Linked DNA regions of Homo sapiens: region 2 is linked to region 1. Evidence: fine-mapped expression QTL. A gene starts in region 1. The other region holds a variant in brackets. All regions are shown on one strand. Distances are between the middles of the regions. Region 1 holds the start of SLC7A8 (solute carrier family 7 member 8). Region 2 overlaps SLC7A8 (solute carrier family 7 member 8).

Region 1 (8,333 bases):
TCTCACTCTGTCACCCAGACTGGAGTGCAGTGGCGCAACCTTGGCTCACTGCAACCTCTGCCTTCTGGGTTCAAGCAATTCTCCTGCCTCAGCCTCACGAGTAGCTGGGACTACAGGCATGCGCCACGACGCCCGGCTAATTTTTTGTATTTTTTAGTAGAGACGAGGTTTCACCGTGTTAGCCAGGATGGTCTTGATCTCCTGACCTCGTGATCCGCCCGCCTTGGCCTCCCAAAGTGCTGGGATTACAGGTGTGAGCCACCGCACCCGGCCCTTTTTTTGCCTTTTAGTTCTCTTTTTTTCTGCAGTGTTGACATTGGACACCAGATCCCTGAAATCTACACAGAAAATGCCATTTCTATTTTTGCATTTGGTCTTGAAAACACTTGAATCACGATCATCCACTGAGAAACTTCTCCAGAAGAGGAAAGGGCAGTTCCTCAGCACATCTGTGACTCAACAGCAACTCGGGAGGGGAAGCAGAATGGATTTTGTCCCCTGTTATCATCTTAAAGGGGAAATTTGTTTCTAGCTTAAGTTGGGGTAGAATAGTGCCTATTAACTCTACAAGGATTCTCATGTTTTGCAAAAATATCCCAATTTCTCTGAAATCACATATTTGGAATCTCTTTTCATCACAGAACACCAGAATTGCCATTCTAGTTACTGTAATGCCACCATGGGGAGCTTTGAGATTATTCTCCCATTGAAGTACCATCCATAAGGTTGTGGACAAATCAGTAGTAACATATACCCACAGAAATTGTACTTATTATACCTGAACACTCCCATTTCTTCATAATCTTAGAAAAAGATGTTAAAGGAAGAGACAAAAACATCAGTATATAGGAAAATACCCTCTACCCTTGAATACCTGAACCTGGAGATCGAGACCATCCTGGTTAACACGGTGAAACCCCGTCTCTACTAAAAATACAAAAAAAATTAGCAGGGCGTGGTGGTGGGCGCCTGTAGTCCCAGCTACTCGGGAGGCTGAGGCAGGAGAATGGCGTGAACCCGGGAGGCGGAGCTTGCAGTGAGCCGAGATCGCGCCACTGCACTCCAGCCTGGGCCACAGAGCGAGACTCCGTCTGAACAAAAAAAAAGAATACCTGAACCTATATTGGGAAGGGCGAGCCAGGCTGAGGCAGGAAGGATGTTTAATTGTGCTTGTGTGCCTGTGGGCGTGCGCATCTGTGTATAAGTCAGAACCTTCCTAGAGGGGGAAAATGCTTAATTCTGTCAGTCAAATTGGTGAACGGGCTATTTATAGACCTTAAACTGGCATGTGCTATACATACTGAATACTTGGCTGTTCTCATTTCTTTTGAACAATTGAGATAAAGTAAAGGAGAGGCAAAAAAAATGTCATGAGAAAAAGTAAAGAGAGATTCAGATCATGACTACAATTTTTCTTATAACATTATCTTTCTTATAACTGTAGATGGCCTGGAAAACTTCCCAGAGTCAGGGAATCACATAAAATAGGATTCCAGGGTGTAGGAGGAGTTGGTGGGGGTGGGGGGGGGATGGGATTTCATTTTAGAGACTGAAGAGAGCTTGGTCACTGAAGTTCTGGGTGTAGAGGTGAAGAGGATTATCTGAATACTGCACTGATTTTATTTGATTTCAAGAGTGCTCTCCAGTGTCACTATTGCTCAGATGCCAAAATATCTCTGAGCTATTGCATAGAACATGGCGTCAGCCAGAGAAACTGGTTCAGGGGCACCAGGACACAACGAGCTCTCATAAAGGAACTCTGGAGAGATGACAAAGAAGCATATCTATGCCTGACCGTCCTGCACTCCTTTTTCTGGGAAGAAAGTAAAGCCCCCTACCAAAGATAGCAGAACAATCTCTCACTCTGAAGTGAGGGCAGGAATAGTGAGCTATTGCCTGCCATCCATCTCCAAGGCTTCTCTGGAAAGAGGATGTGCTGTCTAGAGACGAAGCTGTATTTGGGACTCCTGCCCTGCAAAGTACATTCAGGGGGTTTGAGTGGCCTGCACTGGCACTCTTGGGGCCACCCAGGTTCCCCACCTTCAGCACCTCCCAGCTAGGACACATATTTTACCCATCAGTTCCTCCTCAACTCCATATTCTACACATTCTAGTTACTCCTGATTCCCTCTGAGAGCTTCACCGGGTCCTCCGTGGCTGTTAAGAAACAGGTGGACCCCACCAGGCAACTGGAGAAACTGCAAACTCTCCACTTACCGAGAGGCACAATCTGTCCCCTCTTTTCTTCCATAACTTCCCCATCTGTGAAATGGGAATAACAGCCCTGTCACAGCTACTTCACACAGTAAAAGTGCTGCATAAGGTGGAAAACGCTAAAATAAAAAGGCAGGGCATTGCTCTTGCTATTTTTAATACCTATCCCATAGTTTCATTTAACATAAAACTGCAAAATAGCTACCAAATATACCTTAAAAGCCCATCCCCAGCCTGGGAATAATAGCTGCATACAAACTTGTTCAGGTCCCTCAGTCCCTCCTTAAACCTATTGAACTAGAACCTCCAAGTGTCGAGACCAGGACCTGTATTTTTAAGGAGTTCCCAGGCAATGCTAATCATCAGCCGGGTTTCTGACCACGATTTGCTCCATTCTATGAACACTGGGCAGAATCTTTGCCTGGTTTGGAGGAAGAGATGTATGATGTATTTCCTATGCCTCTCAAACTTGACCAGTGGAGGTGAGTTACAGCTCAGGTGACTGACAATCCTTTTCTAAGGAATAGGAAGAACAATAATGCTTTCGAAGGGTTAAGATCTCACAGGAGGACCACCAGAGGGGAGAGGAGGGGTCCGCGGGAAGGAATGGAACTCACCTACGATGATACCACAGGCACTGACCAATCCGATCTCTTTCTTCAGGGCTACTCCGCCCCCTCCGGAACCAGCCTCGGGGCTGGCGTCCGACTCGCCCCCACCTGGGTGTTTCTTTTCGGTGTTGTTTCGGTGCCTGGCTCCTTCTTCCATCCTTCTCAGTAGGATTGCAACCTCAAAAGCTGCCTCCCTTTCTAAATGCGTATTCGTGTAAATATATTGGGAGAGAGCTTTGAATTAGAACGTCCTTTTCCGAAATAGGAACCACTGCTACTCTCTAAAAAAGGCAAGCAGATAAAAGAGAACACGAAAAATATTCCTACTCCGCATTCACACTTTCTGGTCACTCGCGTTTACAAACAAGAAAAGTGTTGCTAAAAAAAAAAAAAAAAAAAAAGGCCAGGGGAGACATACATTTAAATATAAAAATAGAACTGTGCCAGCGACTCCGGCTGGAATTCTGCTGAAAGGGATGTGTCTTCAGAAACCAGGATGGTTCTGCTCTGTGCACCAGGCAGTGGCTTATTCAGAAAGTGAGCCTGGATTTCCCTTCACCTCTCCCCCTAATAAAACAGGAGACTGCCTTTACCTCCCCTTAGTTTTTTCTTTTATGATGAAGACAAAAGTAGTTTTCATTAACGGTAGGAAAAAAGAGCAATCCTCAGGTACTTTCTTCTCTTCTAGAAAAACAAACTGTGAACCTGACGGTGTTGCTCTAGATCTGGTTTCCACCTGCTTTGGGTTTCTTTTCCCTTCCCCGTCTTCTGCTTCCGCCTTTCCCAGGTGTCCTCTTCTTTCTCGCTGGTCTTCGTGCCCTTGTTTTCCTCTTTTCGATCCCCGTTCTACTGCACAGCCGGCCCCATCCCTCTGGTTTCGGGAGAGTGGCTTCTCCACACACTAACGTGCTTCTCTTTAGCGAGGGGTTTTATTCGCCCGCCGAGGCTCCGCCCCTGCCTCCTCTGCTCCCCTCCATCCTCAGTCCCGTCTCCTCCCTCCTCTGCAATTTAAGTATTAGCACAAAGCCCCCAAACAGCACTGAGAAAATGGACTAAGTTATTTCTTTTTGCAATCGTCTCTCGCTTTCTCCATCTTTCTCCTTGCAACCAAGTGGAAGTAAACTCCTTCCACGTCAACTGTTCCGGGAGAGCTCATTAGCTAGTATAATGTTACAGGTCATACAGCATCTGTGAGCTTTATAAATCAGGGAACAGTTGTGCCGATACTTTTAATGCCATCAGAAATAAACTAGCCAATGTATTAAAAAATATTTAGGACTGGATCCTGTATTTGAGAATACAGGAGAGAACGTTGAAAGGACATCATCTTCGAGTTTCCTAAAAATAGGGGGAATCGACGGGTGGGGGAGGGAAATGGAAGGAATTAACAATGGGAAAAAGGTTCTTTTAGCGTAATTGTGAGCTACGAAGAGTACAGAGGAAACAAAATCGCCAGGCGCGGTGGCTCACGCCTGTAATCCCAGCGCTTTGGGAGGCTGACAGGGGAGGATCACGTGAGCCCAGGAGTCTGAGACCAGCCTGTGCAACAGAGCGAGACCCCGTCTACTAAAAATTTTAAAATTAGCCGGGTGCAGTGGTGCAGGCCTGTAGTCTTAGCTACTCAGGAGGCTGAGGCTGGAGGATTGCTTGAGCTCAGGAGGTCAAGGCTGCAGTGAGCTATGATGACGCCACTGCACTCCAGCCTGGGAGGTAGAGCAAGACCCTGTCTCAAAAACAAAACAAAACAAAAAGCCAGAAAAACCACATGCACATACAAAAAGATAAAAAACAAAATCACCAGGTAGCCTTGTTGTTCACAGCTCTTATTTAGGACTGGCTGAAACATGAAAAAAAATGACTCAAACCCTGATCCTGCAACTTCTAATATTTTTGCATTTATAAACTATTTGAAAAGCACACATGGGGAATTATCAGTATATCGCTGATCATGAAACATACTTGTTGATGTTAGAATAACTAGCTTATTACCATATCGAAATGATGCCTCCACTTTCTTGAAGAATTTCACTCAGAAACTGCTGCCTTAAGGTGAGAGCAACAATGTCTATTTATAATTGTAAATTATTTCGAAAAAACAGCATGAAGCAATATAGTGGACAACACTATAAGTCTAAAATAAAGTTATTTTTAGCCTTATTAAATATATTATGCAAAATTATTTAATTTTAAAGTGGGCCTAAAAAATTAAGTTCCCCCAAACTGACCCCTAACTACAAAAATTTGGCCTCACTTTCTGGAAAATGTTCCAAAAGATTTTGGGTTTTAAGGAAAATAAATACTTAATTCCTTAAAATGAGGTTTGTTGAGCTATCATAGCAAAAGCTTTTTCAAATGGGGTAAAGTCCAATCAGCAGTCATCTGCCCCCTTGATCACTCAGCAAGTATTAAGAGGTTTCAAAGGTTGGGAGGAACTTCCTCTCCTCCTTTTGCTAGTTCAAGACACAGCAAATTGAAAGACTCAGCAAAAAAAAAACAACAAACAACAACAAAAAAAACCAGACAAGGCAGGGAATATATAGCACGAAACTCCATGGGAGGGAATGAGTCATGGGAAATGAAAAAATGTCGAATTTGCCTCTAGCCTTTCCTGACAACCTTAGAAAGCACTGAGGAAAAATTTGATAGATTCATTTGTATACATTCAGATTTGAAGACTTCTGCTCCGATTTCAACATCACCATATAAAACAAATAATGTTTCTGCTTCTTAAACGTGAGTTCTTTCAGTAATATTTGGTAGTTCTAATTTATATGATGCAGACTTAATGTGGGATAAAACATGAATGTGATGAATTTGAGGTCTCTTGCTAAAACCAGTGCAAACTGATAACGATATGGTAAGCTTTAGCCCTCTCAAATTATGAACTAAGAAGCTAAGGGGGTTATGGGATCAAATACGTTCTTGGAATACAGCGGTACTAGGTGCACACGTTGGAAAGGAAGAGTTGCTGAAGATTAGTATTTCTATTTCTTTAGCACTTGGAATTTATAAGTGGCTTATTACCATTGATTACTGGTGCGATGTAATATCTAGGAAAGGGGCTGGGCACGGTGGCTCATGCCTGTAATTCCAGCACTTTGGGAGGCCGAAGCAGGTGGAGTGCTTGAACTCAGGAGTTCAAGACCAGACTGGGCAATGTGGTGAAACCCCATCTCTACAAAAAATACAAAAATTAGCTGGGTGTGGTGGCTCACGCCTGTAATCCCAGCTACTCAGGAGGCTGAGGTGGGAGGATCGTGTGAGCCATGGAGGTTGAGGCTGCAATGAGCCAAGATCGCACCACTGCACTCCAGCCTGGGTGGCAAAGTGAGACCCTGTCTTTAAAAAAACCAAACCAAAACAAACAAACAAACAAAGCTAGGAAAGGAATCTCCCCACTTTCAAAGGGAGCATTATTTATATTAAGTGCCTCTCTGTAGGTTGGAATCTTTTTGTGACATAAACTCTTAAGTGTGTCAAAATTCCAGGTGACTAACATTGAACACAAGAGAGAAAGAAAAGCCTTGGTGTAATATGTTGACAAAAATCTGTAAAAAATTACAAACTAATGTTTATTAAATTTTGAGCATTTTTTTTTTTTTTGAGAAGGAGTCTCGCTCTGCTGCTCTGGCCGGACTGCAGTGGTGCGATCTCGGCTCTCGGCTCACTGCAACCTCTGGCTCCTAGGTTCAAGTGATTCTCCTGCCTCAGCCTCCTAAGTAGCTGGGATTACAGGCACCTGCCACCATGCCTGGCTAATTTTTGTGTTTTTAGTAGAGACGGGGTTTCACCCTGTTGGTTAGGCTCGTCTTGAACTCCTAACCTTGTGATCCACCCGCCTCGGCCTCCCAAAGTGCTGGGATTACTCTATTCTGCATTTGCCTTTATATTTTTATTCTATTCTCTACGTTTAAATAGTGCTTTATAGCCCACAAATGGTTTTCTGAACAATATCTCAATTTTTTTCCTCCTCATGTAGTATCTTGGGCAGACGAGGCAGTTATCTTAAAGATTTTAAAAATTAGAAACCTGAGGCTTAAAGAAATATTTTACCTGAGGTAAAAAACAAGACAGTCTATTTGAGGGCAAATGGGAGATTGATAGTTTACACTGAGCACTTTTTCAGGATGCTATAGCTACTGGTCAAAGCCTCAATTTCTTTCACCTGAGGGAAACTCTGTGTTTTTGCTTTGGTGTCTTAACTGTGCCTTTTAGAGACTCACCTTGATCCTAACACTTATCTGCTCAGTGAGACCCACAGGACTTCACCTGGGCCCCCCCAACATTTGTCACCCCCTTCGCACAGTCCTCAGTGTGGCCATATCCCAAGTACGTAGTACAATTCTGTTTCCAATATCGGAGCCACTGTTTCAGCTGTTTTGCGTGCTTCAGATCAGAAGAAATTGATCCCTTTAACTAGGGAAAATTATGGATGAAAGGCCGTTTTCTTACAAATATGGATTTAGAAAGAGAAAGGCTGTGCGTAGCTGACACCTACTGGACAGAAAAGGTTATGGCTTGGGACATGCTGCTTGTGATAGTTAAAACACAAACACACACAACCCCCACGCAGTCATGTTCTAATATTCCCCTACTCCCCCCTTTTTTAGAGACAAGGTCTCACTCTGTCACCCAGGCTGGAGTGTAGTGGCACAATCACAGCTCACAGCAGCCTCAAACTCCTGGGCTCAAGTGATCCTCCCGCCTCAGCCTCCCGAGTAGCTGGGACTACAGATGTGCGCCACCACACCCGGGTTAATATTCCCTTTCAGAGACAAGTTAGACGTGTCTGCTAATGCAAAGGAATAGAGCACAAAGCTCATGCACTCCATTCCTGATTTTTTTTTCTAGATCCAATAGACAGCACTTTATTCTTGCTTTTTGTAACAGAGCTGGGAAGTCTGAGGTTACCAACAAAGGACCCAAATCTCTCCCTGGAGTCAACTCACAGTCCATGCGCTCACTCCATCCTTCTTCTCGTAACTATGTGCCCCATATCTATGTGCTTTAGTTTAAAGCAGAAGGAAACCCTGCTTTAAATTAAAGCCAACTTTCTTCCCAGAGTCCCAGGGATCACTGCCTATGGTCGATTAGATGGGGCCTTCCTGAGCCAGTAGTTTTAGATGCCTTTACTTCATTAGAAAATGAAAAGCAGATGAAAATTAATGAGAAAAGAAGAAAAAATTAAAAAAAGAAAAGGCCAAAATAGGTCAGAAAGAAAGGAAGATGAAATGAGGAGACTCGGTCAGTGATTAAGCCCTTTTTAGTGTATGCTCTGTTTGCCTTTTGGGCATATTCATAAGTTCAAAGGAAGTTGTGTCTTCTAGGGTTTATGCAGTCCTGAGAATTTGGATGCAGCTGACCCTGCTTTGTTATGATGGTTAATTAATTCAGCTCTTCTGGAGATAATGATGAATCCTTGCTCTGACACCAGAGACAAAAATTCCAACAGATTACTCCTCTGTCTGCTGCACTTGGTGGGATTCCATGGAGCCAGCCCAGCACTAG
Region 2 (8,333 bases), 29 kb before region 1:
CCTTCAACCCAGCTGTCTGGAAGTTGGGAGTGGGTCACAGGTACAGGCTGTGGGGCTGGGGAGCACAGGCTAACGCACTGGACCAGAAGCCCAGATGGTCAAACATATTCCCGTGCCTCAGTTTCCACTAGTGAAGAAAATACCACCAGGTCTTATAAGTCACGTGCCTCTGTCTGCTAGGGAGGAACACCCTGCAGAAAGCTGAAGAGCTGTGCGGTTGCTGCCCGTGCTGCCCCACTCCTCAGGCCCCACGGAGACTGTCCACAGCCAGCGGTGCACACGCAGCCATAAACAATCCCCTGGTGGCTGGTGTGGCCTTGAGGTCCTGTCTGGCACACAGTAGGCGCTAAAGCTTACTGAATGGAAACGACAGATAGATACATCTACACAGAAAATTCAAGGAGGGTGCACATAGAAGCCACCGTGCTGCTCTAGGGAGTAAATATCAGGTTTAATATGTCATAGGATGGCCCATGAAGCAAGGCCAGCAAGTGCCCCGGATGCCAGACAGAGTTGTGGGGAGAGGGTACATATTGTGGCTGTCTCTCCTTCCTCTAGGAAAGCTCACAAAGTACAGCCAGGCACAGTCACTGACACCTGTAATCCCAGTGACAGTAGAGACTGAGGTGGGAGGATCAATTGAGGCCAGAAGTTCGAGGCCAGCCTGGGCAACACAGCAAGATCCTGTCTCTTAAAAAATAACAGAAAATTAGCCAGATGTGGTGACACATACCTGTAGTCCCAGCTACAAGGGAGGCTGGGGTGGGAGGATCACTTGAGCCCAGGAATTCAAGGCTGCAGTAAGCTGTGATTGTGCCATTGCATGCTGGCCTGGGTAACCCTGTCTCTTAAAAAAAAAAAAAAAAAAAAAAGCAAAAAGCTTGCTGGGCACAGTGGGTCATACCTGTAATCCCAGCACTTTGGGAAGCTGAGGCGGATAGATCACTTGAGTTCAGGAGTTTAAGACCAGCCTGGCCAATATAGCAAAACCCTGTCTCTATTAAAAACACAAAAATTAGCATGCCTGTAATGCCAGCTATTCGGGAGGCTGAGAATCACTTGAACCTGGGAGGCAGAGGTTGCAGTGAGCCAAGATCGTGCCACTGCACTCCAGCCTGGGTGACAGAGATTCCACCTCAAACAAAACAAAACAAAAACAAAACAAAACAAAAGCAAAGAAAAAAAAAGCTCACTAAGAGTACACGTTATTCCCAGAGAGAGACTACTTGATAACTGTTTTCTTTTTTTTGAGAGCAGTCTCATTCTGTCACCCAGGCTGGAATGCAGTGGCCTGATGTTGGCAAACTACAATCTCTGCCTCCTGGGCTCAAGCAGTCCTCCCACCTCAGCCTCCTGAGTAGCTGGGACCACAGGCATGTGCCACCACGCCCAGCTAATTTTTTGTATTTTTGGTAGAGATGGGGTTTCGCCATGTTGCCCAGGCTGGTCTTGAACTCCTGAGCTCTAGCAATCTGCCCACTTTGGCCTCTCAAAGTGCTGGGATTACAGGCATGAGCCACCAATGTTTTCTTTTTTTTGAGACAGGGTCTTACTCTGTCATCCAGGCTGGAGTGCAGTGGCATGATGATGGCTCACTGCAGTCTCAACCTCCCCAGACTCAGGTGATCCTCCCACCTCAGCCTCCTGAGTAGCTGAGGTGTGTGCCACCAGGCCCAGCTAATTTTTGTATTTTTTGTAGAGACGGGTTATGCCAGGTTGCCCAGGCTGGTCTCTAGAACTCCTGGGCTCAAGTGAGCCACCTGCCTTGGCCTCCCAAAGTGCTGCGATTACAGGCATGAGCCGCCACACCCGGTGATGTTTTCAGGTGCTCCCTTGCTTTGGATACAGGACTCTGGCTTCTCATTGAGCTGGGCCAGCAGGGGGTCATTTTGTGCCTCCCTCAGGGAGCCAATGAACATTCCCACATGGATCCCTGAACCAATCTCATTTCTTCTACTAAGCCAGCTGCCACTCGATGAGCCACACTATTCTGGTCTGACAGGGTAAAGGTTGGGATAGGGCCACCTGGATACGGGGCTGGATTGGTTGTTATAAGGACAGTGCTAAGAAGAATGAACCAGTTGGGACTCTCCTTGTAGTCAACTCTTGGCCCTAGAGGTAAATATTTGAAGCCTGCGCCCTACCACCCAAGGCTTGTGTCCAGCCTCATGGGTGATCAGAAGGCAGGAATGACCTTAGAGACCCAGAACCTCATTTTATTTTTCTTTTACAGATGGGAGTCTCATTCTGTCGCCCAGGCTGAAGTGCAGTGGCATGATCATAGCTCACTGCAGCTTCCCAGTCCTGGGCTTGAGCGATCTGCCTGACTCGGCTTCCCAAAGTGCTAGGATTACAGTTGTGAGCCACCATGGCGGCCCCAGAACCTCATTTTATATGTGAGTGAATTTAGACCCCAGCTAATTCGCAGCAAAGACCAGACTGGGACAGCCCAATTCCCAGTTGCTTGTTCTGCCTCTGCCCCGCCTTCCTTCATTATACACAGATCACTCTGCTTTCCCTTGGCCGCTCCCACATCATCTCTCCTCCTGCTTGGGTCAGTGGTACCCATGGTCACTACTGCCAGTGCCACTTGGGACTCTGGGTCTGTCACCAAGACACTGGTTAGCCCCAGCCTGGACTGCTTTCTGTGCAGCAGGAAGGAAGATGCCAATATGGCAAAAGGGGAAGACTTTCACAGTTATGCCTCAGAAACCAAGAAAGGTGCATCCATTGCTCCCAGGGCTTTAGAAAGTCATTTCCCACAGGGATCTCCACCTTGGGTCCCCTCCCACCAGCCCCCTTAATCAATGTCACAGTCACATGTTCCCTCCAAACTCCCGGAACTCCATTTGGATTTCTCGGTCTCGCTGGCTTGCACCTTTCTCAGGAGTGGACTGGACTGGCTTGGAAAGGCTTGGTTTTCCTTTAACATTTCCAGAACCAGGCCACTCCTCCTTGTCTGTTCAGATAAGTGAAAACAGGCAGTAGAAAGGGGGAAAAATGTCCAGACTTGCCAAAGTCCATAAAGACAGATGGTGAAGAAGAGAGGGAAAGAGCACAAGAAACCACAGGGCGGGAGAGAGCAAGGGGAGGACAATGCAGATGAGTGGGAGAGAAAAAGGGCTTGAGAGGAGCAGAACAGAGAGAGGCCAGGACTGAAAACAGCAAGATGGAATGTACTAAGCAGACGGTTGCTGAAAAAGGAAGCAGTGACGCCACTTTGTAGAAATCAGAACGCCCTGTTCCTCTCCAAACCTGCAAAACAGGCACCTTTCTGGATGGAGCTCCCCAGCCCTCTGAAACGCCATAAATTTCACCTGGGTCATGGCCTGCCAGAAGGGTTGGCTTCTCAGCCTCACCTTTTGCTGGGGCGTTCACTTCTCTGCCTTCTGCCACGCTCTGGCCAGCTCCCACAGACTCCCTCCCCTCCAGCTGGAGCAAAAGGGGTGAGGCATGTCCCTCCCAGCAGCCCTCTGGGTCTGGGTGCCCAGGCTGGAGGTTGGAGCCGCTGGGCAGGGAAGCCGGGCCTGTGGGGGCGTGGGTGTGGCTACGCTCGGCTCTGTGATTGGCTGCACCGAGTTCCTTGGCCGCCTCCCCCGCTTGTGGAAGGAACTGAGCACGTGTTTCTAATTGTGGAAAAGCCGCTTCGGCTTGGCCTGTCCAACCGCAGGCGTTTCCAGATCTAGGAGGTAAGCAGTGCCGGCTGCCAAAAGGCGCTGATAGGCAAAGAAAACACGGAGGCCTGTTTGACCTCTAACGCACACAACCCAAGGCTCTGATAAGGTTCCAGTTCTGCCCACGCAGGCCACACGGAACAGTCTTTCCTCGTCAAAGACCCAGAGAGGCCTGGAGGTGTGGGGGAGTGGGCAGACACGGATCCAGCTTCACAGAACCCTCCTAGAATCCTTCTCTATTCCCCGCCCACCCCCACCTCAAGACATTTTTTAGAGCGGGTGAGGGGCCCACATTATAAAGTCCTTCCGCACCTGGATTATTGTACATGTAACATAACTTGTCTGATAAAGTTATACATATAACTTGACTGGTGAAAGAGAAAAACGTTAAAAAAAAAAAACCCACAAAAAGCCACACAACAGA[CA/C]AAAAAAAAAAAAAAAAAAAATCAAAGCAGCCCTTCCTCATAAACTGCGCTTTGATCCCAGCTTCTATAAAGTGCACAGTGGGGAGTGTGGTTTTGAAACAGATCTTGCCTATCGCACGATAGTAACATTTCCCCTTCTCCAGCCCTTTTCATCTCGAAGCACTTACAACGTTTTAGAAATCTCGGAACCCCCTCCAAAGGAGAGGAGGTGCTCTGAGCCTTCCGGAAGGGCCTCTCTCTTCCAAGGACACACCAGCAGAGGAGGAGGGTGCAGAGAAGCTGTGAGGGCTGTGAGTGCTCCTGGAGGCACACAGCTTTTACCAAACACTTCCAGCTAAGCTCCTGCCCATACTGCCCCATCCCCTCCCCTCCTCCCTTCCTGGCTCTCTCTTCCCCTTCCTTCTTATCCTGTTAGCTCCTGCGCCAGCTGCTGGAGCTGGGGTTTCTGCTGAATCACCACCCAGTATTTAGCTCAGCCAAGAGGCAGGAATACCCAGCTCAGCATTTTCCAAGAGCTGAGTAGTTCTCTCTTCAGCATGAGCTAAACATGGCTCCTCAGCTGGCCTGGATCGGGGAGAAGCGAAAAACTGGACACCAAGAAATCCAGGGTGGCCTGCCATGCCACCCTGGGGAACCCTATTTTAATCCTACTCATTACTTTTTCAGCCTGGGCCTGAAAAATTGCTATCTCACACACCAATTCTCAGGGCTGATGTCCCCCGAGACATGGAGCAAGGTGGATGAGAATGGGTTCTGTTGAGTCTGCACTGAGCCCAGGAGGGCTAGCCTGACCCTCCATCATATTTCAGTCTTGGAAGACAGGGTGTGGATCCTGTGAGGTTTAGTTGGTTCTTGGACCAGAAGGCTTGTAGGCTCTGTTGGTGTTCACTAAATTCTATAAACCTGGACCCAGGCTGCAAAATTCCCCCAAAACGGTTCAGTTATAACCCAATTCCAAGGGTAGCTTGTACTTAAACTTGCTGAACTCTTTTTTCTTTTCTTTTCTTTTTTTTTTTTGAGATGGAGTTTCGCTCTTGTTGCCCAGGCTGGAGTGCAATGGCACGATCTCGGCTCACCGCAACCTCTGCCTCCCGGGTTCAAGCGATTCTCCTGCCTCAGCCTCCCGAGTAGCTGGGATTACAGGCATATGTCACCACGCCCGGCTAATTTTGTATTTTTAGTAGAGACAGGGTTTCTCCACATTGGCCAGGCTGGTCTTGAACTCCCGACCTCAGGTGATCCGCCCTCCTCGGCCTCCCAAAGTGCTGGGATTACAGGAATGAGCCACTGCGCCCGGATATTTTTCTCTTTTTAATAAGGAACACTTTGTGAATTTGCATGTCATCTGTACATGGGGCCATGCTAATCTTCTCTGTACTGCTCCAATTTTAGTATATGTGCCGCTAAAGTGAGCACAACTTGCTGAACTCTTATAACAGAGATGCCCTTTTTTCTTTCCCCCAAAGCTCCAAGTACCACTGGGCCTCACTCCCATAAGCCTTCTGATTTTATGTTCTTAGGTATGTGATATAAATTTGGTGTGTCACATTAACCCTTAAAAGTTTACCAGACACAATTAATGGGTGACTTTATTTAAACCATGGGCCCTGGCTCCTCTGAGAAAAACAAAGTGATCCTTGACAGTCAGCAACAAAAGGCCAGAGAATTTAAGTTTCTAGGCTGGTACAAGAAAGTAGGCAAATCTCTACCACACCTGGTGGAAGCTGAACTCCAAAACAGTTTCCTGTTTCAGGAAACCTCAATCTCATTCACTGTTCTTCCAATCAGAAGTAGACATATTCCCAGAACAAGCCCCTCATTCCTCCATTTCCAGGGTGTGGGCACACACACTCTCTGAACAGCAGAACTTCTGTCTGAGAGTAGAAGCTGAAGAGCAGAAGAGACACTATGGGAATCAGGAAAGAGGAGGTGATCTGGGCCAGCAGTTGAAGCACATTGAAACGAAGAAGAAGGCTGACTTCTCAGGTAACTTACTTACTCTGCCATTGTAGACATAAGAGTCCAAAAGCACAGGGGATGCTTTCTCAAGTCCCAGCAAGTCTTAAGTGTTGAAGAGTGAGTAGAAAGGGTGACAAGGACAGAGGGGTCAACTTGACCAGTCTGAACCACACCAATTCAGATGATACAACAATACGTACAGACAATACGACCCAGTGTTGTCCTTGATTTACTTCACCTGTATCCCCAACAAGACCATGCAGTCCTTGACTCCTTCAACCTTAATCACCAAGGCCTACCAATTCTACCTCCTAAATGCCAAATGCATCTACTTTTCTCTACTCCCACTGCCCCAAGATGCACATGATAGTCATCTGCAATCTGAATCCTTACAACTGAATTGTAATCATCTTTTCTTGCCTCTGATCTTATTCCCCTCACCAATCCATCCTTTAGCTTTGCAGCATGACTCTCCTAAAATACAGATATGATCATGTCGGTCTTCTGTCTGAAACCCTTCAAACCTCATTCCTCCTAAGGGAAAGCCCAATCTCTTTATGGCCCATGAGGCTTTTCATGATGGGGTCCTTGCTTCTATTATATATTTCTTGCCTCCTAGTCTATGGTGTGGCTATACTGAACAACCTGTAGTTCCCACAAACAACTGTGATTTTTCCTGTCCTCAGACCTTGACACATGTTAATTCCTTCTGCTAGAACATTCTCCCCACCCCATTCTACTCCACCCTCCCTCCGTGCTGAATATTGCCTGACTATGTCCAACTGGTCTTTCAGTCTCAATTTACATGTCACTTTCTCCAAGAGCTTCTTCAACCCCAGTCCCATCCTCACTTTTCTTGCAGGAGCTGCCTGGATGCTGGCCTCCTGGGGAACTGGAACTCCAGTTTGAACTGAAATTCCCTGTATACTTGTCAGGAACATCCACTGGACTGTGGGTTCCTTGGTACAAAAACTAAGTATCCCCATGCCTGCCACAGTGCCTGGAGCAGAACAGACACTCAAATATTTAATAACGTATGACTGATTGTGTATTACCCGCGGCATCAATAGAGGACACACAGGTGGGTGTAGTATAATATGTGTTAAGAAAGAAGGCTAAATCTGCTGCTGCTGCTTCACATGAGAATGAGAGTCTTTCGGTTTATTGTTGTCTCCCCCGTGCCAAGAACAGTAACTAGCCCATCATGGGCACTGATAAGTGTTTGTTGAGTGAATAAAGTGTTGCATTTATATAACATTTCCCAAGAGTCCCAATCCCTTTCTAAGTTATACTGCTCTAGAGCAGGCAAAATTTTGAGCAGGATCCTGGGAGCACCACCCTGGGGAAGGTTCTAACCAGAGACCTGCTCAGCACCCCTCGGGGCTCTAGGGAGGACATGGAAGGCAGACATGGAGTCTAGCTCTGTCGCCCAGGCTGGAGTGCAGTGGCGCAATCTCGGCTCACTGCAACCTCCGCCTCCTGGGTTCAAGTGATTCTCCTACCTCAGCCTCCTGAGCAGCTGGGACTACAGGCCCCCGCCACCACGCCCAGCTAATTTTTGTATTTTTAGTAGCGACGGGGTTTCACCATATTGGGCAGGCTGGTCTCGAACTCCTGACCTCGTGATCCACCCGCCTCAGCCTCCCAAAGTGCTGGGATTACAGGCGTAAGCCACCGCGCCCGGCCGACATAGAACACATTCTAACTGCTTGTCATCAATGCTGGGAACATTTAAGTTGAAACGTATTTCATTTTGATTTGGGGACAAACTTGATTCCTTCCCTTAGTAGTCAATTAATCAATATGTCCAGCTGATTCTACTCCTAAATCTTTCTTGTTTTTGTCATCTCTCCATCCTTGTTACTTCATTCTTAGTTCAGGCTACCATCTCTCTGGCCTGGACAAATGCCTAGCCTGCTTGTCTCTCTGCTTCAAGTTTCAGTCTTTTCTTTCCCAAATGTGAACCTAATCATGTGACTCCTCTGCTCAAAATCTTTCAGTGATTCCCTGTTCCTTGGATAAAATCTACTTACCTTTCAACATTTAGCTCAAGCTGGGAGCCTTTCCAAGCACTGTCTTCCCAACTTTGAAGCCCCGTTCTCTGTGTTGCCCACATTTTTTCCCCATCACATTGTATTGTAATGATGTGTTTTTGCATACGATTCTCTTCACTAGACTAATCTTTTCTAAGACTCTATAAATCATACCTTATCTCCCCTTAGTGTAGGAGTTCAGTATGGTAATTAGCTGATGGATTTTTTTAGTTTCTTTCTCT

Evidence for each region.
Region 2: its variant is fine-mapped to the expression of SLC7A8 in whole blood (INTERVAL, PIP above 0.99). The same link has a PIP of 0.9 or more in activated naive CD4 T cells.

What each region holds. Positions count from the first base shown.
Region 1 is chr14:23,179,933-23,188,265 of GRCh38, forward strand. It overlaps SLC7A8 (solute carrier family 7 member 8), which reads right to left and starts at 3,728. Exons shown (of 11, transcript NM_012244.4): 1 at 2,832-3,728. The coding sequence starts at 2,982. It also overlaps a transcript of RNF212B not described here.
Region 2 is chr14:23,150,900-23,159,232 of GRCh38, forward strand. The region is part of intron 3 of SLC7A8 (solute carrier family 7 member 8); the gene reads right to left. It also overlaps the pseudogene RNU6-1138P. Among named protein-coding and RNA genes, the nearest start is that of SLC7A8, 29 kb to the right of the region's middle. The variant CA/C (reference allele first, on the strand shown) is at 4,099.